Linked DNA regions of Homo sapiens. The protein of the gene in region 1 purifies or fractionates together with the protein of each later gene. This does not show direct contact. Each region holds a gene or a part of one and is shown in the gene's direction. Other genes may lie near its edges. The genes, in order: EPB41, SGSH, TMEM33, ACP1, FKBP1A, LRPPRC and NUP155.

Region 1 (3,500 bases):
GTGCCTGGCCCTGTATACATATGTTTTTAGAGACAGGGATCTTACCTTGTTGCCCAAGCTGGAGGGCAGTGGCATGATCCTGGCTCACTGCCGCCTTGAACTCCTGGGTTCAAGTGATTCTCCCACCTGAGCCTCCTGAGCAGCTGGGACTACAGACGTGCACCACCATGCCCAGCTTTTTTTTTTCGTTTTTAAAACACGGGGTCCTGCTATTGTTTCCCAGGCTGGTCTCAAACTGCTGGTCTCAAACTCCTGAGCTCAAATGATCGTCTCACCTCTGCTTCCAAAAGTGCTGGGATTACAGACATGAGTCACTGTGCCCAGCTTAGTCTGTATTACAGACATGAGCCACCATGCCTGGTGTGTAATTGTTGGTGTGAATGATAGAGTTTGCTTACTTTTTTTTAATGTAGTAATCCAGTTTCATATTGCTAATCTGATTTCATAACTTTAGAATATCAGTGGCCATGAGAGGCTGAGTTTGGTTCTGAAATCAAGAGGAGCATAGATGTAGACCACAGTCTGTTTCCTTGTTATCTAAGAGGCAGGACAGCATAAGTGTTGCCAGTGTATTTTTGTTTTTCTTGTCTTTTCTGTCTCAGCCTCCTGAGTAGCTGGGACTACAGGCACACACCACCACACCCAGCTAAATTTTTGTATTTTTAGTAGAGACGAGGTTTCACCATGTTGGCCAGGATGGTCTCCAATCTCTTGACCTCGTGATCTGCCCACGTCCGCCTCCCAAAGTGCTGGGATTACAGGCATGAACCACCACACCCAGCCAATGGCCTGTATTTTTCTGAGTTTCATCAAGTTTGTGTTTGGTTAAATGCATATTCAGATGTGGATTCATTGCTACCTCTATATTTGAATTTTTTCTTTAATTACTTGAACATGGAATCACTTTATTTTGTGAGCTAAACAACAATAATTCCAATAACTTTTCTTATGAATAACTTTGTTTTTTTCCTCTAAATAAAGCCCCCAAAGATGGCCTCTGAATTAATCAGTTATGGGCCTTATGTATGTGAAGGATCCAAAATTATTGAAAAGTAATTGCTAGCTAGGTGCAGTGGTTTATGCTTGTAATCCCAGCACTTTGGGAGGCCGAGGCCCACGGATCACTTGAGCCTTTGAGTTTGAGACCACTGCATTCCAGCCTGGGCAACAGAGTGAAATTCTGTCTCAAAGAGAAAAAAGAAAAAGTAATTGCTTGATTGCATTTATCATAGCATTTAGTTAGAGGAGAGGAGAGGCAGATGCCAAATGTATGTTATTTTTTGTTGTTCATTTAAGTTTCTTGGTATGTCACTGGTGGCTTTTACTGTGCGTCCTTTTTAAGAGTGGGTTCATGGTGTGTTTAGTCAAATGCAATATAACTTACTCTGGAGTGCACACTGGGTTAGATTAGTATTTTGATTTACTCTGCTGCTATTTAATGAATACATAGAAAGATAAAGAAGAATGCTGTAGCAGTGAGGAGTATTCAGAACTTGGAGGTGTTAGAAAGGAGAACTTTGATATTTTATATTGAGTGCTGATCTCATTTAGAACTACCCACCTTACTGACACTTTGCTTCAAATATTGGTTTTGGGAAAATCCGATTATGATGAAAGTCTGTTTATACTTATTTTGCTGATTTTTTATTTAAATTGAATTGTATCCACTTAAAATATTTGAAAATAAATTGGCTAGCTCTTTGAACTTTGGAGAACAGCAGCCAGTATAATTCAAGGAGTAGCTTGAAGAGACTTTAATATCCCCTACCCGCTAGCTTCGTCAGCTTCCCACTAAGTCACCCTAAGTAAACATGCAATCTGGGTAGGAACTGGGAGCTTGATATCCAAATATTCTGTCTCTCCTTCCAGTCAAATTGCTATCCTTAAAAGTCCTTTCTTTCTTTTTTTTTTTTGAGGCAGGGTCTTGCTCTGTTGCCTAGGCTGGAATGCAGTGGCATGATCTCGGCTCACTGCAACCTCTGCCTCCCGGGTTCAAGCGATTCTTCCGCCTCAGCCTCCTGAGTAGCTGGGACTACAGGCATGCACGGCTAATTTTTGTATTCTTTGGTAGAAACGGGGTTTCACCATGTTGGCCAGGCTGGTCTTGAACTCCTGATCTCAAGTGATCCATCTGCCTTGGCCTCTGAGAGTGCTGAGATTACAGGCATGAGCCACAGCATCCAGCCCAAAAGTCCTTTCTATATAGAAATTCCAGAGACATTCTGGCGTCATGCTTTTAAATTATTTATTGTTTTATTATTTTTATTATTTTATTATTGCAATTAAGAGCAGTTCTCTTTTTTGCAAGTTATCTCTTATCTCCAAGTTAAATCTATGTGGATTAAACTGTGATTGTTTATTGAATTGCTGCTCTCCCTCTTCCGTAGCTGATGACTCTTTGAGTCAGTTCTACCCAATTAATCTAGGCCCTCAACTCTCAGGGTGATCTCTGCTTGTGGAGATTAAAATTGTTTCTAAGCTATGTGGAATAGAGCTTGGGTAAGGTTAAAGAAATTTTGGCAGGGTGGGTAGGAAGGGGCAAGATTATCTGTCTGATGGAATGGATAAGAAATATGACTGTGAGTTTATATTGATTAGATTGGAAGAAGCAATAGATGCTCTATTAAGATTATTTTCTATTACCTAATTCTATATTCAATGTATATCTACAATTCTGTTCTGTTATCTAATATCTATTAATAGAGACAGGAACACCTCCATCTTTTTTTGGAAATAGGTGGAAATAATCAAATAAGATTGGATATAATCTGTACTCTTGTAGTTAATTGTTATTTATAGATGCAACCTGATTCCATCCTCCACAAAAGTCACCCTAATGCAGATCAGCTTTTGGTAGGCCCTCTATATGTTTGAATCATAGCACCGGACACAACATAGACTGAGGTTTTGGTACTTTCTACATTAATATTCACTCAGAAAACTTTTGCCCATGCATTATATTTGTTATATCTGCATTAAATCATAAAAAAGTTATGATAGAAAAGTTTCAAGTGAGAAACTCCCCGTGATTTAACTATATTAGAGCACAGGATTATTTTATTTTTATTTATTTATTTATTTATTTTTTGAGACAGGGTCTTACTCCTGTCACCCAGGCTGGAGTGCAGTGGTGCGATCATGGCTCATTACAGCCTCAACTTCCCAGGCTCAGGTGATCTTCCCACCTCAGCCTCCTGAGTAGCTGGAGCTACAGGCTCCACACCTGGCTGATTTTTTATATTTTTAGAGACTGGGTTTTGCCATCTTGACCAGGCTGGTCTTGAACTCCTAGGCTCAAGAAATCTGCCTGCCTTGGCCTCCCAAAGTGCTGGGATTACAGGTGTGAGCCATGGCGCCCAGCCTATTTTAATTTTTAAAAATTTATATGGGGAGTCTCTCTATGTTGCTGAGGTTGGTGTTGAACCCCTGGGCTCAAGTGATCCTCCTGTCTCAGCCACCTAAATAGCTGGGACTACAGGTGTGTGCCATCACATCTAGCT
Region 2 (3,500 bases), on another chromosome or scaffold:
AGTACACCACCGTCGGCCGCATGGACCAAGGTGGGCTTGCAGAACCGGGCACTGGAGGGGGTGCCACGGCCGGGGTCCCCCATCCTGGGCCAGCGCCCTCTTAGGTCACGGCATAATGTGGGTGAGGGTCCCAGTGTGGCAGGCCCTGTGCTGCAGCTGGCAGAGCCCACATTGAGAGGAGGGGCCTGTGGGTGGCATCAGGACCCAACCCCGGGGCTGCCCTGATGTGGACCTGCTCCTGGGCTGGGGCCTTCGGGTGCCCCAGAGGTTGCGTGAAGACTTCAGATATTTCCAGTCACAGGACCTGGGTCAGATTTGGGGGTTTGGAGTTCCTTAGCATATGCAGATGGAGATCTTGAGGTCTGTGAGTTTTTTGTGGTTGATGGCTTACAGCAACCAAAATTTGTACTCCCACAGTTCAGGAGGCCAGAAGTTTGAAATCAAGGTGTCAGCAGGGCCATGCTCCCCTGAAGGCCTAGGGGAGACCCTGCCTTTCCTCTTCCAACTTCTGGGGGCTGTGCCAGTGCTGGGCGTTCCTGGGCTGGCGGCAGAATCGCCCCCATCCCCGCTGAAGCCTTCACATGGCCTTTTTTCCTGTGTCTCCTCTTTGTGTCTCCACTTCTTCTTTTTTTTTTTTTTTGAGACTGAGTCTTGCTCTGTCACCCACGCGGGAGTGCAGTGGCGCAATCTCGGCTCACTACAACCACCACCTCCCAGGTTCGAGCGATTTTTCTGTCTCAGCCTCCAAAGTAGCTAGGACTGCAATCGCACCGCACGCCACCATGCCCAGCTAATTTTTATATTTTTAGTAGAGACGGGGTTTCACCACATTGGCCAGGCTGGTCTTGAACTCCTGACCTCGTGATCCGCCCACCTCAGCCTCCCAAAGTGCTGGGATTACAGGTGTGAGGCACCGCGCCCGGCCTGTTTCCGCTTCTTATAAGGACCCCGTCGGGTTTAGGGCCTACCTGAGCACTTCAGGATGATTTTGTCCCAAGATCTTTATTCGTGAAGTTCCCCTTTCCAAACAAGAACCCCTTCACAGATTCCAGCACACATGTCTTTTGGGGTCAGGGACGACAGGAGGTCAGGACCTTTGCCATTTCCCTATTGGTGCCATTAATTCTTAGTGAGCTGGGAAGGAGCGGGTATAGAGGAAGCCTTGTCCTCTGGCCCCAGCTGGGAAGGAGCGAGTATAGAGGAAGCCTCGTCCTCTGGCCCCTGCCCTATTTGCTCCATGGGACAGACACGAGATTCCGGAGAACTCAAAAGCCGGCGGGCACCAGGGAGCAGCTGCCTGGGGGTGACACAGAAGTGCCAAGGGATGGCTGGAGTCCCTGGAGGCCCATTCGAGGCCTGCTCAGGGAATGGGAGCTGGGCGGAGCTGGGCAAGAGCTGGGCAAGAGCCAGGGCCATTGGGAAGAACTACAGGGTGCTTTCGAATCCGGAAAGCGCTGGAGCCCAGCGGCCGGATGCAGCAGCAGGTGGGTCTACACACACCACCCGCTGCCTCCCTCCGTGTCTGCGGCTGAGCTCTGCTTCTCGGCCCCTCACCACAGGAGTTGGACTGGTGCTCCAGGAGCTGCGTGACGCCGGTGTCCTGAACGACACACTGGTGATCTTCACGTCCGACAACGGGATCCCCTTCCCCAGCGGCAGGACCAACCTGTACTGGCCGGGCACTGCTGAACCCTTACTGGTGTCATCCCCGGAGCACCCAAAACGCTGGGGCCAAGTCAGCGAGGCCTACGTGAGCCTCCTAGGTATGCCTTTGTCTGTCTCCGTCAGGAAAGGTGTGGGAGTGGATCTGGGACGGGGCCATGACCTGTCAGATGCTGCTCCACACCCATTACCTAATGTGGCTCTCATATCATCTGGGTGAGGAAGGGACTGTCACTCCCACTCTACAGAGGAAAAGAATGAGGCTCAGAGAGGTGAAGTAAGCTGCTCAGGATTGCACAGCTGGTAAGCACTAAGCTAGGATTCTCGCCTGGATCCTGCTGCTTTCAAAACCATTGCCTTTTCCCCGCCTACCTCCGATGAGCTTCAGAATCACCTGGGATGCTTGTTAATATCCAAATTGCAAATCCCAGGGTGTCCGATTCAGTAGATCTTGGCGGGCTCAAGAATTTGCATGTCTGACAAGTTCCCAGGTGATGCCGATACTGTGGGCCTGGGGACCCCTCTCTGAGCATCCGTGCACCCCATCCTGCCTTCCTGGGGGACCCAAAGCACCTCATGACCCTGCTCATTCCTAAAAAGACCTAGGACATCTAGTCCCATGTTATGGATGTGCAGACAAAGACACGGGTGCAGGAAGACTTTGTGAGGGGCTCGGGGTGACCCCTTCGGCACAGGGCAGAGGCTCGTGTGTCCTGCCCACTGCCTGGCAGAGCCTCCAGGTGGGGTGGGCCCGGGACAGCAGGAAACTCAGGTTCCCTTTCCCTCCGAGCTCGCGGCCCACATCTCTCTTGGGGCCCACATCTCTCTCTGGCCCCAAATGATGAGCCAGGAGCACTGTGGCCACACCCACCACAGGGGCTGGAGTACACGAGCTACCAAAAAGGAGACTTCTTTTCCAGTCCATGGGATTTTAGAAGGATCCTAAATGTCACCGAATCAGGGCCTCTTGTTATACCATTCAAGGCACTGAGGCCCAGAGAGATGACGTGGCGGTGAGAGGTGTCGGCTCGACAAGGCACCTCCCGCTGCTGATTGGATTGGAGAAGGGAGCCGCCCAGAGTGGCGTAGGTTCGGCCCTTCCGAGGGCAGCTCCTGTGTGCTGAGGGCTCTGCTGCTCTGAGATGCCGCGTCCCTTCCAGACCTCACGCCCACCATCTTGGATTGGTTCTCGATCCCGTACCCCAGCTACGCCATCTTTGGCTCGAAGACCATCCACCTCACTGGCCGGTCCCTCCTGCCGGCGCTGGAGGCCGAGCCCCTCTGGGCCACCGTCTTTGGCAGCCAGAGCCACCACGAGGTCACCATGTCCTACCCCATGCGCTCCGTGCAGCACCGGCACTTCCGCCTCGTGCACAACCTCAACTTCAAGATGCCCTTTCCCATCGACCAGGACTTCTACGTCTCACCCACCTTCCAGGACCTCCTGAACCGCACCACAGCTGGTCAGCCCACGGGCTGGTACAAGGACCTCCGTCATTACTACTACCGGGCGCGCTGGGAGCTCTACGACCGGAGCCGGGACCCCCACGAGACCCAGAACCTGGCCACCGACCCGCGCTTTGCTCAGCTTCTGGAGATGCTTCGGGACCAGCTGGCCAAGTGGCAGTGGGAGACCCACGACCCCTGGGTGTGCGCCCCCGACGGCGTCCTGGAGGAGAAGCTCTCTCCCCAGTGCCAGCCCCTCCACAATGAGCTGTGACCATCCCAGGAGGCCTGTGCACACATCCCAGGCATGTCCCAGACACATCCCACACGTGTCCGTGTGGCCGGCCAGCCTGGGGAGTAGTGGCAACAGCCCTTCCGTCCACACTCCCATC
Region 3 (3,500 bases), on another chromosome or scaffold:
TCTTTTTATATATATAAAATAAGTCACTTTTCATTTGCATATTTTATGAAGCTTTACAACTTGATTTCATCAATTAGTAATTACGGAATTATTTAACATTTTCTGATTTATTTAGTATTTTAAAAAATTTCAAAAGTAATACAGATAAGAATACATTTATAAAAAAATTAAACAACATTTTACTCTTTACCAATCATGTACATTCTTTTATATCCTTTTTTAAGGATAACTTGGATTTAGACATGATAGATTTCACTATGACCATTTGATGAATGAAGATACACATATTCTCCAGTTGAATTGCTTTTAAGTTTTGAGAGTATACACATGAATTGAAATGTATATTTATCACGCTTGTATTTGTTTATTTCAGTGGTCAAGGAAGTTTGCTCCAACCTTTTATATACTATAGATTTCTTACCCTTCGATATTCGTCTCGAAGAAACCCATATTGTCGGTAAGCTGATGATTATTTTAGGCATGTTTTATTTGTTGAGAGTATTGTGAATATATAGTATTCGCAATTCTTAAGAGTTACTTAGCTAATGTGTTAGACTTTAGAAGCAAGCAGTGTTTTTGTAAATTTAAGTTCTAGGCCTTAGAATGTACTGGGGTTGGTGAGGAAGTGGTTGTATTTGTTCTTAGAAACTGAGACTGCAGTTATCTACGCCACCTCTAAAGCACTGCTAAAACTTAGCAAATTTTAAAATGTATAAGACATAGATTCCACTCTCAACTTTCCTAGTTGAAGAAACAAAACACGTGTCAATTAGATAAACAATGGTTAGGATACAGAATTCACAAGCCAATAGATAATGAATGCCATATGTTTGCTTTATTATATCAGTACTGCAGTCCACAGAAGGGAGAGATCATTGGGCCAGAAGATAGATGAGCCCAGGAAGGTTTCACAAAATTGAGATTGTGGGAGGAGTAAAGCTTTTGAATAGGGAAAAGCATTTTAGGTGGGGCAAGAGAGACGAGAAGCACAAGCCATATTTGAGGAACTTTATGTAGAGCTGTTTTGACTCTAATGGAGATTCTGAATGGCTAATTGCTGGAGCTAAGATTAGAAAGGTATATTGGAGCTATATTATAAAACTTCTTGAGTTTTAGGGTAAGAAGTTTGGAATTTATCTTTTAGGTGAATGGGAATGATGGTTTTGACATCGTCAGAATATTCTTCTGATACCCTTGTGCCAGAAGAGTTTGAAGCAGAAAAATGGGGAAGCAGAGAAATTTTAGGGAATTACTGTAGTTTTCAGGAATGGAGGCTTAAATTAATATACACTAAATTATGCATTCTGATCTCAAGCATTGGAGTAAAACTAAAATGATACTCAAATACTAATATTAAGATAATCTATTTTTAAGTTTAAAATAATGTAGAATTCAGCTAGAAATCCAATGAGTGCATTACAGCAATCTGTATATTTTCATAAGTACAGTAAAAAGAACTTGAATTTGAATGCTGGCCCATCATTAACTAGTTGTGTGACTAGGCAGGTTATTTATTTGGATTTCTTCATTGGTAGAGGAAATAACTCCTTCTGGGGGTGAAGCGAAGTAATATTTTAAAAGTACTTAGACTGTTATGTTCTTACTAGTTCATTTTCATTATTCTATGATCTGATTTTCTGTTCAGAGCGTTTTTATGCTCTATTAGACAATGTCTTTTTTATAATACTTTCTAAAATAGAACTTATTTTAGACATTCGTTCTTAGTGAGTCTCTAGTAGCAAATTAACATTCATTTTTACTTGATTTCTTGAGTTTTAGCCTTTTTTCTTTCTGGTCCCTATATTCATTTCAGACATTATCTTATATTCTCTTGCCCTGACATCTGTTATTTTAATCAGCATATTTGTTTTTCTGTGCTTCTTTGTGCCTCCTTCTCCATTCCCATTTTCTTCACATACCCTTAAATCATATTAGTACATCTAGAATTCAGTTTTCAGTGGACTGAAAAGGAAAGGATAGCAGTGAATCAAGATAACACAAATATGTGCTGGTAAACATCTTCAAAGCTGTCTTATAAGCACCCATTTTAACCAAACCAGTGGAAAGGTAATGGAAAATATTTCAGCTTGTAAATATTGATAAACAGGCTATAAAACTACATTTTCAGTACTACACTTTTTTTAATTAAAGGTTTTGAGACCATCTCTATTCACAATTTGTACCATTTTCACCTACGATATTTATTCTCAAGTTGGTGGTTTCAGTTGTTTTTGGATCTCTAGTGCAGATTGTCTATAGCTGTGCTGTCCAGTACAGCACAGCAACCACATTTGACCTTTAAATAAAATTCATAAAACTTAGAACTTGGTTCCTTTTGAGCACAGTTCAGGTGGGTACTCAAAAGCCATGTGTTGCTGATGGCAACTGTGGGTCAGCACACATATGCAAAAATTTTGTCATTACTCAAAGTTCTGTTGTCAGTGCTATTAAGGAACTCTCTGACTGGTCCTTCAGCACAGATATGCAAAAATTTTATCATTGTTCAAAGTTCTGTTGTCCGTGCTGTTAAGGAACTCTGACTTGGTCTGTGCCAGCGATGCAGCCAGTAATAAAAGAACTATGTGACTTTAGTGAAAGCGATTGACTTCATTAGTCCTCATGTCTTCTAGCTTTATTCATTTGACTGATTGGTTAAAACAGTGATTGTATGTTGATGAACTTATGTGGAATTAAAATATCTTCTTTCAGAGGTACTCACTGCTGAATAAATTAGACAGCTATGTAAGTCAGTGTGATGATGAAGGTGCTCTGAAAGCATAGAGAACAGACAGAGACAAATAAGAATTCACTGAGGAGGTGGGAACATAAGCCAAGTCTTTTAAAGAATGAGCCTGAGTTCTGACACATGGGTGCCTGAAAAGTGCTTAGCATACTTGAGCTCAGGAAGTATATAGAGAATTGATAAATATCTGTGTCCACAAAGGTAGATGGTAGAAAGGACTAGATCATGAAAGGGTTTGGATTTTATTTTGAGGTAAGGAGAGCCTTTGAAGATTGTAACATAGAGAGGCTGGGAACCCCCATGATGAAATCTGATTTAGAAATATTCCAGAAAATGGATTGCAAGCTCAGCAAGAGAAGAAAAATATCAATTTGGAGACTATTAGAGTAGTCTAGAGCCTGAATTAATCCAGTGGTAAAAGGAAAAGGGGACAAATATGAAAGGTATTAGGAGATAGGATATTAGGGCTTGAGAGAAAAGAGTAAATTAAAGACCCACAGGTTTCTGGCTTGGAAGCCTAAGAGTTGTAATGGTGCTCTCACGAAGACAGGAGATACAGGAAGGGCAGGTTTTGGAAAATTATGCATTACTCCAAATATTATTATTCCTGTCTTTCTGTGCAAGCATATTAAATACTTGTTTAGAAAAGTAGATTTGTTGCTTTTTTTCTAACCATAGAAGTAAAACAGGACACAAAAAGGTAGAATAGTAGTTGCATCTTTATACAGGATGAGTCAGCACATAAGGTGAAAATTGT
Region 4 (3,837 bases), on another chromosome or scaffold:
ATTTCTTTGCAGTACAATTTTGAGAAATAGGTTAACTCTATTTTAACTTAAAAGTACCCTAAAAATTATTTAATTGTTTATTAGTGAGTAACAGGCTCAAATACAGCAGTTTTTTTTTTCTTTTAGTATTGCTTTGCATCCTCTAGGCTTGAATGGTATAAACACTGTGTTTTGACTTCTTATTCAATTTTAGATTACCAAAGAAGATTTTGCCACATTTGATTATATACTATGTATGGATGAAAGCAATCTGAGGTAATCCTGTTTTTGAAGAATATTTCTGTTCAACTCTCAGTTCAGCAGTGGGCCAAGTAATTTGTTGTCCAGATTTACTTTTTCTATTTTAAAGGTTTTAATAGTCAGTGATGGTCACCATATGTAGAATTATTTTATTTAGAACAGCAAAAAACTTAGTAATCTAGAATTGTCTCTTAGGTATTTACAAGGAAATACACCTTAGAAAAGGGAAAGTCTAGTTGTTAATAGCATGATTTAATTGGAAAACTAGCTTGGCTGTTATAGTTTTGTATCAAGCATATTGTTCTGCATGAGAACGATTTTGATATTTTTGCTGTAATGATTCCTGGGCAGGGCAGTGTTTTATTGATTCTCAGGTCAAAGCTCTGCAACCATAGGTTCCTATTATTATCCCATCTTGTAAAAGAAGGAAGTGAGAAACGGTAATGTTAGGTTATGTCCCCGAGTTCACACAGCTAGCATGTGGTGGATGTCATGGGATTTAAGCCTAGGCTCAGTGAGGAAGGGCCCTGCTGTATGCACCCCTGCCTCAGTCACCACCCTCCTGACCTGCCCCAGTCCCATGTTCAAGGCGTCATCGGGAACGGATCATAATTTAATGTCACTCCAGGATTCTGACTTGCATCACTACTTATTCATAAATATCTCATGTTTTTGATGAAGATAAACTATTTGTGCTTTTAATTACTTTTGTACAAATGAACAGATAGGGATGCACCAGTTTCAATTATTTTTTATTAATTAGGACCTTCATTAAAATGCATGTATTTTTTAATTTTTATTTTTCAGTCCTTATTCTGTTCTCATTGTTTTTGCTGACACCATAGCCCATAGGCATCGTAAAAACACCTTTTTAGGAGACCCCATTTGCTTTGACTGGCACTGAGCACCGTGTTTCTTTGCGTGTGGGGCAAGTGGAGTTCCTGCAGCCTCACATTTGCACGTGCTGTTCCTCTGCCTGGAAGCTCCTCCTTGCTTCTTGGGTCATTCGGCTCCTATTTGCCCCTCGTGGGTCAGCTTAAATTCATTTCTTGATAGAGGTATTCTGCTGCCCTGTCATTAGGCCAGATTGTGCATTAGACTTAGGCCTGCCTGCAGTTCTCATTCCTGCACCTAATCCTGAGCTGTAAAACTTCGTGCATGGGAGCTCTTGGCTGTTCCGTTCCCACATAAAGCACGTACCTGACTCATCAACTCATCTGTCGCAGGTGCTCAGTCGAAATTTGTTAAATAAATGGAGGCGCTTAGTTAAGTTTGCCTTTTTCTTTTGTAGCAATGTGAAAGCTAAGGGTGGAAGTCTAGAGTGAAGCTGAGTTTTCAGCTTGGGCAGAGGCTTAAGGAATAAAAGATGGAAGAGTAATTAAGGAGTGGGTCGTGCTGTGGGAAGTGCTGTGTCAAGACACCTGAGGATGGAATTGGTAGCCCTCTGTTTTGGGACTGGTTCAGATGGTGTTTTGGGTTCCTTTCTATGACCTTTATCTCTGAAACTTGATTGTCTTAAAATGTATTTTGTGGGAGAAAATATAATTATTGTATATTTTGTGTAACAGAATCAGTGAGAATAAGCTGCTGTCGCAAACTGTCTTGCCTAGAGAGAGGGCAGTGGCATACAGCTGCAGAAGGGGCCACACGGGCCTGCTGAGTGTTCCGTTTCATTTCAAATTAGGTCATTCTGTCTTGATTTTGATATGGATGTTTCAGAACACCCTAGCAGATGTCCCTGTTTAACTTGAAACCATAGATCAGAAAACTAAGTTCATATTTCAATTTTACAGAGATTTGAATAGAAAAAGTAATCAAGTTAAAACCTGCAAAGCTAAAATTGAACTACTTGGGAGCTATGATCCACAAAAACAACTTATTATTGAAGATCCCTATTATGTAAGTACAGTTCACGTTTTAGGGCTAATATGAAGACCCAACACATTTGTATCCTGCCATATTAAATAACAGATGAGATTGTGTTAAGGATGTTTTTGTTATGCAGGTTTTGCCATTTTCTTCTTTTTCCTGTCCATTTAGGGGAATGACTCTGACTTTGAGACGGTGTACCAGCAGTGTGTCAGGTGCTGCAGAGCGTTCTTGGAGAAGGCCCACTGAGGCAGGTTCGTGCCCTGCTGCGGCCAGCCTGACTAGACCCCACCCTGAGGTCCTGCATTTCTCAGTCGGTGTGTAATCACGTTCCAGGGCCCAAAGCCCAGCTCTTTGTTCAGTTGACTTACTGTTTCTTACCTTAAAAAGTAATTGTAGATGGAAATCAGTTGTGTTTGGCAGGAGAATCAATAAAAATCTTTGATTCAGACAGCTTATGGGGTATTTTAAGCATTCTTAGACTAGTTGAACATCTCACTTTGCCCCAGTTACAAAAATAGTAGAACAAGCAACATAAAACAATGAAGGAAAACCTCACTTGAAGGCCCAGGTCAACATCTAAGCCTGTTGAGACTTAGATAATCGAGTCTACCTCTTCAGTAGGTTTGTGTGGATGGCCTGGAGGGCAGGTGCCCTCTGCTCCCCAGTGCTACCTCTCTCTTCCCTAGGGCCTTTTGTGGATTGACAGTAGTCCCCTCCGTAGGAGCTCACAGTCTAGATTAGAAGTGTTTTAATTTCTACACACCCATAGTGCACACTTGTATATTGAAAAGATAGGGAAGAGAGAAACATTTATGGAATCAGTCGTTGGCACCTTCAATACTTCATGATTTTTGTCGAGTTTACTTCATGAGGAGGTCAGCCCATTGGCTCCCATCTGAACCACTTTGCCTCTGAAACTTAATTACATCCAGAAAGAAGGACACTTGTATGCTAGTCTATGGTCAGTTGAGGAATATGACTGTTTTTATATGCACATGTAACCCAAATGTCCAATATAAATTGGCTTATTTTTTAAAATAATTTTAAAAGTTGGGAAAAGTGTTATTATTTGGCATGCTTAAATATTGAATAAGTATTCTTCATCAGCATTTAATAAATGTATAGGCAGATGTAAGGTAATTTCTGTGTATTTTGAGATAATGTCAAAATCATGAATATTTCAAAATAAACTGGGGAGTTATAAAAATACAACTAGAGATATAAATCTGGTGTCTGCCTGTTTTTTTATTGACAGGTAAGGAAGCATTTGAAAACATTGTATTGTCCTTTTTACATGATCTGTGATGTTAGGTGTGCATATTTTATCTTCAGGATAAGGAAGTAAAATGATGAAAATAAGCACATTGCTGCCCCATGTCATCATGTCTAGTTTCTGAAGGAAGTTTGAGGTTCTACAGCTGGAACTGTCCTTGCCCAGTACCATCCTCTGGACATGTTGCCTCTACGCTGTGCCCTCCTGTGCAGTGATGCACAGCTGCCTGGCCAGGACATCTGCACTCCTGACCTCAGTATCATGAGGGTCCCAGGCAGTGCCATGGGGAGGAGACACGTTTGATCCTTGACTCCCTAGTATCTGGAGGATAAGCTGTTGCCAGATGAAAGTGAGTAGTTTCCCCACTGTACCATGTGGAAGTGCCAGGCTGTCTTCATAGGAAGAAAGTTTGCAAACCCAGTGAGTCTTGCTCTTGTTGGAATTACTCAGAC
Region 5 (3,500 bases), on another chromosome or scaffold:
TCAAGGGTCCCTCTGGTGACTTCCGTGACCTTCTGGCAGAGCACAGCATGAGCAAGGCCTCAAAGGAATGCCTGCACTACCTCTGTGGTACCAGAGGGAAAATACAAAGTTCACTATCACCAGCTAAGCATCTCCTAGGAGCATGACAGGCATTGAGGTGGGAGGGAGGTGGTGGAAAGGTAAGCTGCCAAGTAAGTGCCTTTAGGAGCCAGGGAATTCTCATGGCGCCTCCCTGCTGCCTCCAGTAGCTTCGTCATCTTTACTGTTAGCTTGTCCTGGCACACAGCTAGGTTTAGACCTCTTTTACTTACTTCAGCAGGCCGTGTGCCTGCCATTGTGAGAGCAGCCCCAAGGGGATTGAAGGAATGTTTTCTTTTTTCTTCTTAAAAAGTAACTAACTGGACATTTTGTCCTTGGGATCAGGTTTAAGTCAGGTATAGCCTCCCGGTTTCTGACTGAGAAAAACCAGGAGCCCCTCAACCTCATGTCCTCAGGAGGTTGACTGGGAAGGCTGCTGAGGCTCCCGGGACAGGTGTGGCCACTTTGCTGCAGCCTCCCTCAAGCCCCTTGCTTTTCCTTAGCTTTGTTCCCCCCTCTCCTCTGCTTTATTCCATCCACTCCCTTGCTAGGTATCTCTTGGTTGGTGATCTGATGTCTGGAGGGAGGCTCACCCTCAGCAGAGATGCCTCAGATGGCTTCCCCTGACGTGTGCTGTCTTGAGGCACACAGGCTGTAACTGTTGGGCAGGGCTGCAACAAGTCCCTTTGCCTTCCCACAGCAGATGTTTTTTGAGCAACAGCAGCAAGCCAGGCTCTAGGGACATGGCTAGTGAACTAAATAGACAAAGACCTGATCTGGTGGGGCTTTGCTTATGATGAGGAGACTGATAGTATGGCCATGGAGCACATCAGGTAGTAAGAAGCGCTGGAGAGATTAAAGCAGAGTGAGGGATGGGAAGGGAAGTTGGCTGCTTTTCGTGAGGGTGATTGGAAAAGGCCTCTGAAAAAAATGGCATTTTAACATTCACTCAAAGGACATTGGAGAGGGAGCTACAGGGCTGTCTAGAGTATCCAGGCAGAGGGAAGAGCTAGTGCAGGACCCTGAGGCTGGAGCCTGCTCGGTGCATTAGAGGAACAGTAAGAAGACCGGTGCGTTAGAGGAACAGGAAGTGGATTGTGTGAAAGGGTATGTGGCAGGAGATGAGGGGATGGTGGAGCCTCGTTGGTTTTTATAAAAACGTTGCCTTTTTCTAACTCAGGTGAGAGCCACTGGCTGGCTTGGCTTTTAATGCCCGCCCCCGCCCCCCCAACCCACGCTCCTTCTGGCTACTGTGTGGACAATGGGCTTTTGGGGGCAAAGGCAGAAACAGGACACTGGTTGTATCCCAGGTGTGTGGAGTGCCAGCTCAGGCAGTGGGCAGAAGTGGTGCCAGGTGGACAGTGATCCCCAAAGAGCATGTGGGTTCTTCGCTGTGTTCTGATCTTGACCCTGCCATACAACGGGCTATGAGAGCTTGAACAAATTGTCCCACAGTTCCCAGCTTCCACATGCTGTCTATAAAATGGGAGTAACGATGCCTGCTGTGAAGCAAATGCCTATCGAGACTACCCAGTTGTCTCCAAAGTGTTGCTCTTTTTTAAAACCACAGTTCCATTGAGCCTCACTCATCGCAGTTGTTATGTCTGTAATCTCAGTCTAGAAGAGTCCTTACGCTGTTTTTTTCTTAATAACTCTGATTTCTTCAAAGAGAGCAGGCTAGTTATAGAATACTCCACATCTGTCTTACTGTTTTCTCATGGTATTGTTTAACTTGTTCCCTGCCTTGATTTTCTGAACCGGATGTTTAATCTTTTAAGTGTCTGAATAGATTCCGTTTAAACATTTTAGTGTGAGTACTTCATCCTCAGCACACATGGGAAACATCACTAGTTGTGATGCTAAATTTGATCTTTTCTGTAAAGGTACATTTTTCCCTTTGCATTTAGCAGTGATCTGTGGAGTGCTTAGGTAGCCATAGATGGTCTCTTGCTCATCAGCCTTTCACCTAGTGGTGTTTACACCATCTGATCATTCTCCCCTGAAGAAGTCACTGGCATTCACAAAGTGTTGATTTTTAAAATTCCTTCATTCTTTCTAAATTTATTAGCTGTTATCCTTCTATAAGATAAGGTAAAGTAATTCTTTACCTTTAAATACCAAATTTTATTTTTATTTTTTGAGACAGTGTCTCTGTCACTCAGGCTGGAGTGCAGTGGCTTGATCATGGCTCACTGTAGCCTCGACCTCCCAGACTCCCATCCCGGCCTCCCATCCGGCCTTCTGAATAGTTGGGCATACAGGTGCATGCCACCTGTCCTAATTTTTGTATTTTTTGTAGAGACGGGTTTCGCCAGGTTTCCCAGGCTAGTCTCAAACTCCTGGCCTCAAGTGATCCACCCTCCTTAGCCTCCCAAAGTGCTGGTAGTACAGGCATGAGCCACCGTGCCCAGCCTTTAATTACCAATTTTTAAAATGAAAAATGAATGTTAACTGATGGGGTATTGCCATTCCCAGTGGGGGCAAGTGACTTTTTCCCCCTCTATTTGCTTTGACTGTACTGTGGGCTGAAATTTTTTGTCAGGGCCTTAAGATCAATGATACCCATTATTCTTTTTGATGCTAATATCATCCTAAATTTGGCCAGTAGGAGCCCTTTAAGCTGGCTCCAGTACCTTTTTGACAGGCTCCCACCATTCCTTCATCCATTTCTCGGTTTCACTACTCTGGTCCAATTATCAGCCATCTTTCAAAGAGCTCTGGTTCCTTTCAGTGGGGTCCATGACCTTTTTTTTTCTTGGTAACAGCTTTATTGAATATAATTTACATACCATAAATTCACCTATTTACTCATAGATGTTTTAACTAGAACATTTTTAGGCTTAAACTGATTTTTATGAATTACTGAGGGGTTTATTGTATCCATAAACTGGAAATCATTTGTCTGCCTTGGAATTTTCTCTAAAAATATTGTCACCTGCTGTTTCCCATGGAAGAAGCCAAGGTTATGAATAACTTAATCACATAGCATTCAGTTCTCCCTTTGGTGCTCATGGTGACATTTGTTTATTTTTACTTCTATTTTTTCTTCTGTTTTTTTGTTTTCTTTTCCTGCTAAAAAGCTTAACCAAGTCTCTGCATTCCCTCCCCTGGACCCCTTTGATTTTGACCAGGTGTATTCTAGCAGTGCAGAAAGTCGGGGAGGTAGAAATAACCAGTTCTTAGATGCTACTGTCTCTTTCTGTTACATTTGCTCTTCCTCTCCCAGGAGCTCAAGCCACCTTGGCCTGCATTCATTCCTCGAATGCTCCAAGCCTTTTCCCACATGGAGGTCTCTGCCCCTTTGCTTAGGTGCCACCACACTGCCCCCACTCCCCACTGCATGACAGGCTCTTTTCTTTATAGCACAGCTTAAGTAACACTTTGGATGCATACATGCATGCTTCTAATTCTGCAACAATGCA
Region 6 (3,500 bases), on another chromosome or scaffold:
CAGGCAATTCTCCTGCCTCAGCCTCCCGAGTAGCCTGGATTACAGGCATACACCAACACTCCCGGCTAATTTTTCTACTTCTAGTGGAGACGGGATTTCACCATGTTGGCCAGGCTGGTCTCAAACTCCTGACCTCAGGTGATCCACCTGCCTTGGCCTCCCAAAGTGCTGGGATTGCAGATGTGAGCCACCAGGCCTGGCCTATTTTGAATATTTGAGGTGGGTGAGTGTCAGCCTTTCTAAATTACCTTTGTCCTGAAAATTCATCCTGATACAGCAAACATTTATTTACTTATTAATTTTAATACTTTGATCTGTACATATTACAAGTATGCATATACTTGAAAATAAACCTGGGTTTATTTTCGATCCTTTGCTGCCCTCTGCAGGTCTATGAATATAAATCTTTGGAGCGAGGTAAGTCCCTCTAATATTGCAAATCATAAGGTGCTTTTAACGTTACAAGCCAATACCATAGGTTATGTAATAATTTTTATCATGAAACCTATATTTGGTTTTCTACTAAAATTTTGCTGGCAGAGTTAATGTTGAAAAATAATAGTTATGTGTGTCTTTTAGTGTTTGTGAATCCAATTGATAAGAATCCAATGGGAGGAGGGAGAGGATCAGGAAGAATAGCTAATGGATGCTGGGCTTAATACCTGGGTGATGGGATGATCTGTGCAGCCGACCACCATGGCACACGTTTACCGATGTAACAAACCTGCACATCCTGCACATGTACCCCTGAACTTAAAATAAAAGTTGGAAATTAAAAAAAAAAGAATCCATGAGAATAGACACTTTAATCTTTAGACCCCTTTTGTTTTAGTCTCATTAAGATGAATGGAAGTTGTTATTAAATATCTAAAAAATGTAAGTTATTTAGCAGTTCAGGATATTTTACTTTATATTTCAGTAAAACTTAATATAAAATGAGGAAACCAGTTCAGTGTCAACAAGACCAAAAGCAATATAATGAGGAATAATATTGGTCAATAATTCCTATAAGCTCTTTTCTATTTATAACAGTTCATTCAGAGTGATGTTTATATATCAATTTATAAATCAGTTTAGAGTCTTTCTGTGTGACATTTCACAAAACATTGCAGTTTTCCTTCAACATGGATTTGTTTTTGTTTTTAAAAGACAAACCTATTATTTAAAAACAAAACAATCTCCTTGGCGGGTGGGGGTGGTTTTGAATTACTGTGAAATAGAATAGTACCTTACTGGGGAGAGGTTTTATTATTTCAAGAATTCAATTTCAGATTGTGTTTGTTCTTGTTTGCTTCTCTTGCTGCAATGCACGAATTTTCTGTCTTACCAGATAACAGAATTGTTGTACAAGGATGGACGTTATTGCCAGGAGCCTCGAGGACCGACGGGTAGCGTTTCAATTTCGATGATTGTAACTTATCCACAAATCCATTTTTCTGTGTAATGATGGGTTAGGAGGATTACAGCAGTAAATACTTTATTTTTTAAAGTGGAATTTGAAAACATTTGGTTATAAATCTTTATATTGATTACAACATTTTGAGATCTAAAGTGTTTGATTTTGTTACAATTATTTTTTCTAAAGACAGGGTTGGGAGGCTTTTTCTTTTCAGATATTGGGGAAATGTTTCTTCTAACATCTATGGAAATAGGCTTAAAAATCAGTGATTCTTAGTATTTATGTGCTTTTAATGTTTTGCAGGTGTAGTTAATTTTAAACATAAAATGTAGCGAAGGTTCTTGTGGATTTCCGCTTAAATGTAATTTATTGCCCCAAATACATTGTTTTGACATTTAATGATTTTCATTTTTCATATAATGAAGCTAGACTATATAGTTTTCTGTAAGATGGTACCCCTCTTGAAAGTTTACATTTCTATCCTAGGTATTACTGTAACATGGCCCTATACATTTTATGCTTGAATGCAAAGGAAAATTACTGTTGTTACAAAACATCTTTGTTAATCTTGGTTTTTCATTGGCTAATAGGCAGCTCTCCACAGGATTACTGTATCTGCTTATTAAAATTGTTTAACTTTCTTTACTCAACATTTAACAATCCTTTCTAATTTTATGTGCTTCCCTAAATATTGTCCACAAAAAAAAAACAGTATAGAAATGTGTACAAGACATTTATTTATTCTTATTACGTGTGATTTGGACAGGAAAGGGGTAAGGCCTTGGGCAGGACCACTTCTGTCACAGAGTGGTGGAAAAAAAATAGATTGAAGTAAGATTCAGTACTGAAAAGCTGTCACTCGGTCTGAAAATAATTAATATTCCTTTCACTCACCAGTTAGATATGTGCTCCCAAACCACATAATCTCTATGCCTCAGTGATCATTGTTGCCATTTCAGAGCCTCTCATCAGGGTGACATCTCACACCAAAATGATTTCTTATAAATTAATCTTGATAACATGACAGTCTCGGTAATTTTAGTGGAATGCTTTCTCTTGTTTTTTTCCACAGAAGCTGTTGGCTATTTTCTTTATAACTTGATTGACAGCATGAGTGACTCAGAGGTACAGGCCAAGGAGGAGCATTTGAGACAATACTTCCATCAGCTGGAGAAGATGGTACCATTTCGTTTTTTGCTATATAATGCCTGTCCTGCCTGACATGTATCTATTAGATTTGAAATTGCTGCTTTTAAGTACAACCAGACCACTTCTCAATGACATGCAAGAGTTGGAGACTTAAATTATGTCTGAGATAATTTCTGTTAGACAAATTTCAGTTTGGTTGTCTAAAACTCAGGTTTTTTCCCCCCTCCCTTCCCTTCTCACAGAATGTAAAAATTCCTGAAAATATCTACAGAGGCATTCGTAATCTCCTGGAAAGCTACCATGTTCCTGAATTGATTAAGGTGTGTGTGAAATAGCAATCAACTGGATAAAATGCTTAACTTACATATAACAGCATGTTAAAATTTTATTTAAATATGATGCTTTTGGTCAGAAAAAAAATTTGTTTCAATGACAGCCATTAAAACGAAGCTTTTCATTGATTGTTCATAAATACTATTTATATATTCATAAATATATTTATAACGTTAATTACATTGATTAATAAAGTATGAAGAGAATGTCTAAAATTTTGGAAAGATGAAAAGTAGTAATATGAGGTGAGACTTACAAATTTGCTTTTGATGTTTGCTGATGTATTTTTACGTGTGTTTTCTAATTCTGGGCTAATTTAAATTTCAATTTTAGGATGCTCACTTGTTGGTTGAGAGTAAGAATTTAGACTTTCAAAAAGTAAGTAGGATTTTGACTAGATTCTACATGCTATAATACCCATATTTAATGAGTATTCTGGATTGTGTACTTATAAAACCAGTGATTCCTCACATTTTTATCATCTTGTATACCTCTAAGAAGTTGGTAAAACCTGTTCCCCACCTCAGAAAAATCAACATATCTAAGAAATTTGCATATAATCTCAGAAGGTTTGTAAATCCCTGGAGTCCATCCATGGATTCCCCAATTAATATCCCTG
Region 7 (3,500 bases), on another chromosome or scaffold:
AAGTTTTTTGAGATATGACTTTCCCTTTAGGCCTGAAACCAGTAACTGTTCCTACCTTCACAAGGGAATATTTCAGGACTACTTTGTGTTGGGTCAAAACTAGAATATTCTCTCTGTACCTTTGGAACCAACACACAACAATTTTTTTGTGGCACTCAATCCTTTTGTTTGCCCGGTTGATGAGCAGTACATTATTATAAATACTTCATTTTCTTTTTGTAGATAATCCCACCGTTTCTGGCATGTCAGATATGGATTATCCTTTGCAAGGACCTGGTTTGCTGTCCGTACCCAACCTTCCAGAGATCAGTTCCATCCGAAGAGTTCCTCTCCCACCTGAACTTGTTGAGCAGTTTGGACGTATCCTATTACTTTGTATTTATTTTAAAAATGTTAAAATTGGTATTTTTCATTCTTATAATTCTTGTTCTATGTTTAATTAATGTGTTATATATTCATTTAAGGGTTTTATTTAAAATTCGTTTAAGTATATGGGTTCCATGTTGTATTAAAGAGTGGACACATTGTGATTTTTTACGTAAATATTAAGTCAAAAGCTATTGAAACAAGTTAAAGAAGAATAAGATTCACCTCTGTCTGCCTTACATCCACACTACCTCAGATATGCAGTGTAATTGCATGATGGGTGTGTTCCCTCCTATCAGCAGAGCTTGGCTCACAATTGACAGTGATATATTCATGTGGAACTATGAGGATGGGTATGTATTTAAGGCTGGTTTGCTTTAAGGGTGATTGGAATTTATATAAACTTTACTGTAGCTAGTGTTCTCATTAGAAGCTGCTTGGTTTATCTTTCATTCATCTAGCCTTTGGGTCAGTGCTTCTCAGTATCAGTCATCTGGAGATGTTCAAATGTGCATTCTGTCTTAGTAGTCCTGAGTGAGGCTCAAGAGTCTGCATTTCTAACAAGCTGCCAACTGCTGCTGCTGGTTTAGGTGCCATTCTTGAGTGGCAGGAGCCCGGGTCCCAAGCTGTTAGCCCGTAGTAAAAATAGATGTTGGCAATTCATTGAGAGATGATTGGACATTTTTAAAGACTTCTGTTTTCCTTGCATTTCTATGGAGTAGGCATGTGATATTTATTTATTTTGTTGTCATTTTGTGAATTTGACCCGTGTGTAAATTATATGTATAGAAATGATTCTGAGTGAAAGCCTAAGGTACTTTTGCTTAAATACAGCATGTTGGTCTGGTGATCTCCCTGTTGACTTTTTAGAGATAGATTTTGTTTTACTTCCAGTTGTCCATTACATTATCCTTAGATGAGGTGTGGGATAAACATAGGAAAGCCCATATAATTAAGATGTTACTCTTGTTCCTGAGTAATTAATGATCTTTTTAGGAACACACGTGCATTAAAAAGACACTGTATCGGCCGAGCACGCTGACTCAAACGCCTATAATCCCAGCACTTTGGGAGGCTGAGGTGGGTGGATCACCTGAGGTCAGGAGTCCGAGACCAGCCTGGCCAACATGGAGAAACCCTGTCTCTACTAAAAATACAAAAATTAGCCAAGTGTGGTGGCACATGCCTGTAGTCCCAGCCACTCGGGAGCTGAGGCAGGAGAATTGCTTGAACCTGGGAGATGGAGGTTGCAGTGAGCTGAGATAGTGCCACTGCACTCCAGCCTGAGTGACAGAGCGAGACTCCATCTCAGAAACAACAACAACAAAACACTGTATTATTGAAACAAAATTGAAACTAAATGACAGCTTAACACCTATAGCTTAAACGAAACCATTTTTTTCTACTAGAAGTTTCGTAGCAATTTTTCATGTTGAAATGTAATAGTTGTAATAGCAGTGATGTATGATTGTGATTATTTTTCATGTACCCTGAATGTTCCCCACTTTGTTATGTTACCATAACATATTCATTTTTATACTAAATAATGAAACCTTTTTTGTTTAGGTATGTATCTTTTCAAGAGAAGTCATTGCAAAAATATTACAGAACAGATAAATGTGAGAATAATTGTTTTCTTTAAAATATGTTTTCGGCTGGGCATGGTGGCTCATGCCTGTAATCCCAGCACTTTAGGAGGCCAAGGCAGGCAGATCACCTGCAGTCGGGAGTTCGAGACCAGCCTGACCAACATGGAGAAAGCCCATCTCTACTAAAAATACAAAATTAGCCTGGCATGGTGGCACATGCCTGTAATCGCAGCTACTCGGGAGGCTGAGGCAGGAGAATCACTTGAACCTGGGAGGCGGAGGTTGTGGTGAGCCGAGATCGCGCCATTGCACTCCAGCCTGGGCAACAAGAGGGAAAACTCCATCTCAAAAAAAAAAAAACACTAATGAAATTTTTTACATTTCCATTAACATCCAACATATTTATTTAACACATACATATTGATCTTATGTATCTGACACTGTTGTTGTGGTAGGAACAGTACTGAATGAGATGAATGTAGTTCTGCCCTCATGGAACAAACAGTCCTACCTTACTGTGTGTCTTAGTCCGAGCTGCTAAAACAGAATACCATAGCCTGTGATCAACATGAATTTCTTTCTCATGGTTCTGGAAGCTGGAAGTCCAAGATCAAGGTCTGGTGAAAGCCCACTTCAATGTTCATAGATGGCTATCTTTTCACTCTGTCCTCACATGGCAGAGGGGTAGGGGAGTTCTTTGGGTCCTCTTTTATAAGGGCACTAATCCCATTCATGAGATATACCCTCATGACCTAATAACCTTTCAAAGACCCCACCTACAAATACTATCACATTAAGAGTTAGGATTTAATATGAATTTTAGGAGGACACAGATATTTGATCCATAGCAGTGTGTGTTCATTTAAAGAAAAATTATTTGAAGAATGTACTTATTTTAAAAAATCAAGGCACAAGGTCCACAAATTCAATTTTGTAAAATTTATACTTAGTTTAAATATTCAATTGGCTTTCTATTATAAATCCTAATTCCACCTGGATGATAAAAATGTAATCTTGGTCATTTCATTGTTCTCTAACCCCCAAATATCTCAGCATTGGATCGTAGTTCCAAGAGGCTGTGCCAGTTATCAAAGGGCCCTGTGGAATGGCATGATGTAAGAGGATGGGGAATCCTAGTCCGCATAAGTTGCCATTTAGCTATTTTGTTCCTGTGTGGATGGCCTTTTCAGGATGACTGGAAGCTTTCTTGAAAGTCTAGATCATATTTTTTCGTGGTATTTTTTCTGCTTCTTGTTCTCTGAGCTTCTTAGATCTTTAGTTTGATGTCTTCTATTATTTTTAGAATTTTTTTCAGCTGTTATCTTTATTTCTCTCTCTCTCTCTCCTTTTCTGTTCAGCCATTGTCTTTTTTTTTTTTTTTTTTTTGAGACAGAGTCTCGCTCTGTCGCCCAGGCTGGAGTGCAGTGGACTATCTTGGTTCACTGCAACCTCCACCTCCTGGGTTCAAGCACTTCTTGCCTCAGCCTCTGGAGTAGCTGGGACTACAGGTATGGGCCACCACACCTGGCTAATTTTTGTATTGTT

Evidence for each region.
Region 2: the proteins of EPB41 (region 1) and SGSH fractionate together in Homo sapiens (co-fractionation; one large-scale study listed by BioGRID). This does not show direct contact.
Region 3: the proteins of EPB41 (region 1) and TMEM33 purify together in Homo sapiens (co-immunoprecipitation; one large-scale study listed by IntAct). This does not show direct contact.
Region 4: the proteins of EPB41 (region 1) and ACP1 purify together in Homo sapiens (co-immunoprecipitation; one large-scale study listed by IntAct). This does not show direct contact.
Region 5: the proteins of EPB41 (region 1) and FKBP1A purify together in Homo sapiens (co-immunoprecipitation; one large-scale study listed by IntAct). This does not show direct contact.
Region 6: the proteins of EPB41 (region 1) and LRPPRC purify together in Homo sapiens (co-immunoprecipitation; one large-scale study listed by IntAct). This does not show direct contact.
Region 7: the proteins of EPB41 (region 1) and NUP155 purify together in Homo sapiens (co-immunoprecipitation; one large-scale study listed by IntAct). This does not show direct contact.

Annotation. Positions count from the first base shown.
Region 1 is NC_000001.11:28,917,569-28,921,068, forward strand, and holds part of EPB41 (protein 4.1), read left to right. Parts: intron 1-3,500. UniProt on the Homo sapiens protein: Protein 4.1 is a major structural element of the erythrocyte membrane skeleton. It plays a key role in regulating membrane physical properties of mechanical stability and deformability by stabilizing spectrin-actin interaction. Recruits DLG1 to membranes.
Region 2 is NC_000017.11:80,210,334-80,213,833, reverse strand, and holds part of SGSH (N-sulphoglucosamine sulphohydrolase isoform 1 precursor), read left to right. Parts: coding exon 1-30; intron 31-1,559; coding exon 1,560-1,763; exon of another isoform or gene 1,764-1,910; coding exon of another isoform or gene 1,911-1,965; intron 1,966-2,646; coding exon of another isoform or gene 2,647-2,786; exon of another isoform or gene 2,787-2,822; coding exon 2,823-3,382; 3' UTR 3,383-3,500. UniProt on the Homo sapiens protein: Catalyzes a step in lysosomal heparan sulfate degradation.
Region 3 is NC_000004.12:41,948,929-41,952,428, forward strand, and holds part of TMEM33 (transmembrane protein 33), read left to right. Parts: intron 1-373; coding exon 374-457; intron 458-3,500. UniProt on the Homo sapiens protein: Acts as a regulator of the tubular endoplasmic reticulum (ER) network by modulating intracellular calcium homeostasis. Mechanistically, stimulates PKD2 calcium-dependent activity. Suppresses the RTN3/4-induced formation of the ER tubules.
Region 4 is NC_000002.12:274,947-278,783, forward strand, and holds the end of ACP1 (low molecular weight phosphotyrosine protein phosphatase), read left to right. Parts: intron 1-193; coding exon 194-255; intron 256-2,033; coding exon 2,034-2,139; intron 2,140-2,280; coding exon 2,281-2,358; 3' UTR 2,359-3,337; downstream 3,338-3,837. UniProt on the Homo sapiens protein: Acts on tyrosine phosphorylated proteins, low-MW aryl phosphates and natural and synthetic acyl phosphates with differences in substrate specificity between isoform 1 and isoform 2.
Region 5 is NC_000020.11:1,386,555-1,390,054, reverse strand, and holds part of FKBP1A (peptidyl-prolyl cis-trans isomerase FKBP1A), read left to right. Parts: intron 1-3,500. UniProt on the Homo sapiens protein: Keeps in an inactive conformation TGFBR1, the TGF-beta type I serine/threonine kinase receptor, preventing TGF-beta receptor activation in absence of ligand.
Region 6 is NC_000002.12:43,947,490-43,950,989, reverse strand, and holds part of LRPPRC (leucine-rich PPR motif-containing protein, mitochondrial precursor), read left to right. Parts: intron 1-389; coding exon 390-417; intron 418-1,330; coding exon 1,331-1,388; intron 1,389-2,471; coding exon 2,472-2,578; intron 2,579-2,790; coding exon 2,791-2,868; intron 2,869-3,214; coding exon 3,215-3,259; intron 3,260-3,500. UniProt on the Homo sapiens protein: May play a role in RNA metabolism in both nuclei and mitochondria. In the nucleus binds to HNRPA1-associated poly(A) mRNAs and is part of nmRNP complexes at late stages of mRNA maturation which are possibly associated with nuclear mRNA export.
Region 7 is NC_000005.10:37,361,107-37,364,606, reverse strand, and holds part of NUP155 (nuclear pore complex protein Nup155), read left to right. Parts: intron 1-222; coding exon 223-360; intron 361-622; coding exon 623-719; intron 720-3,500.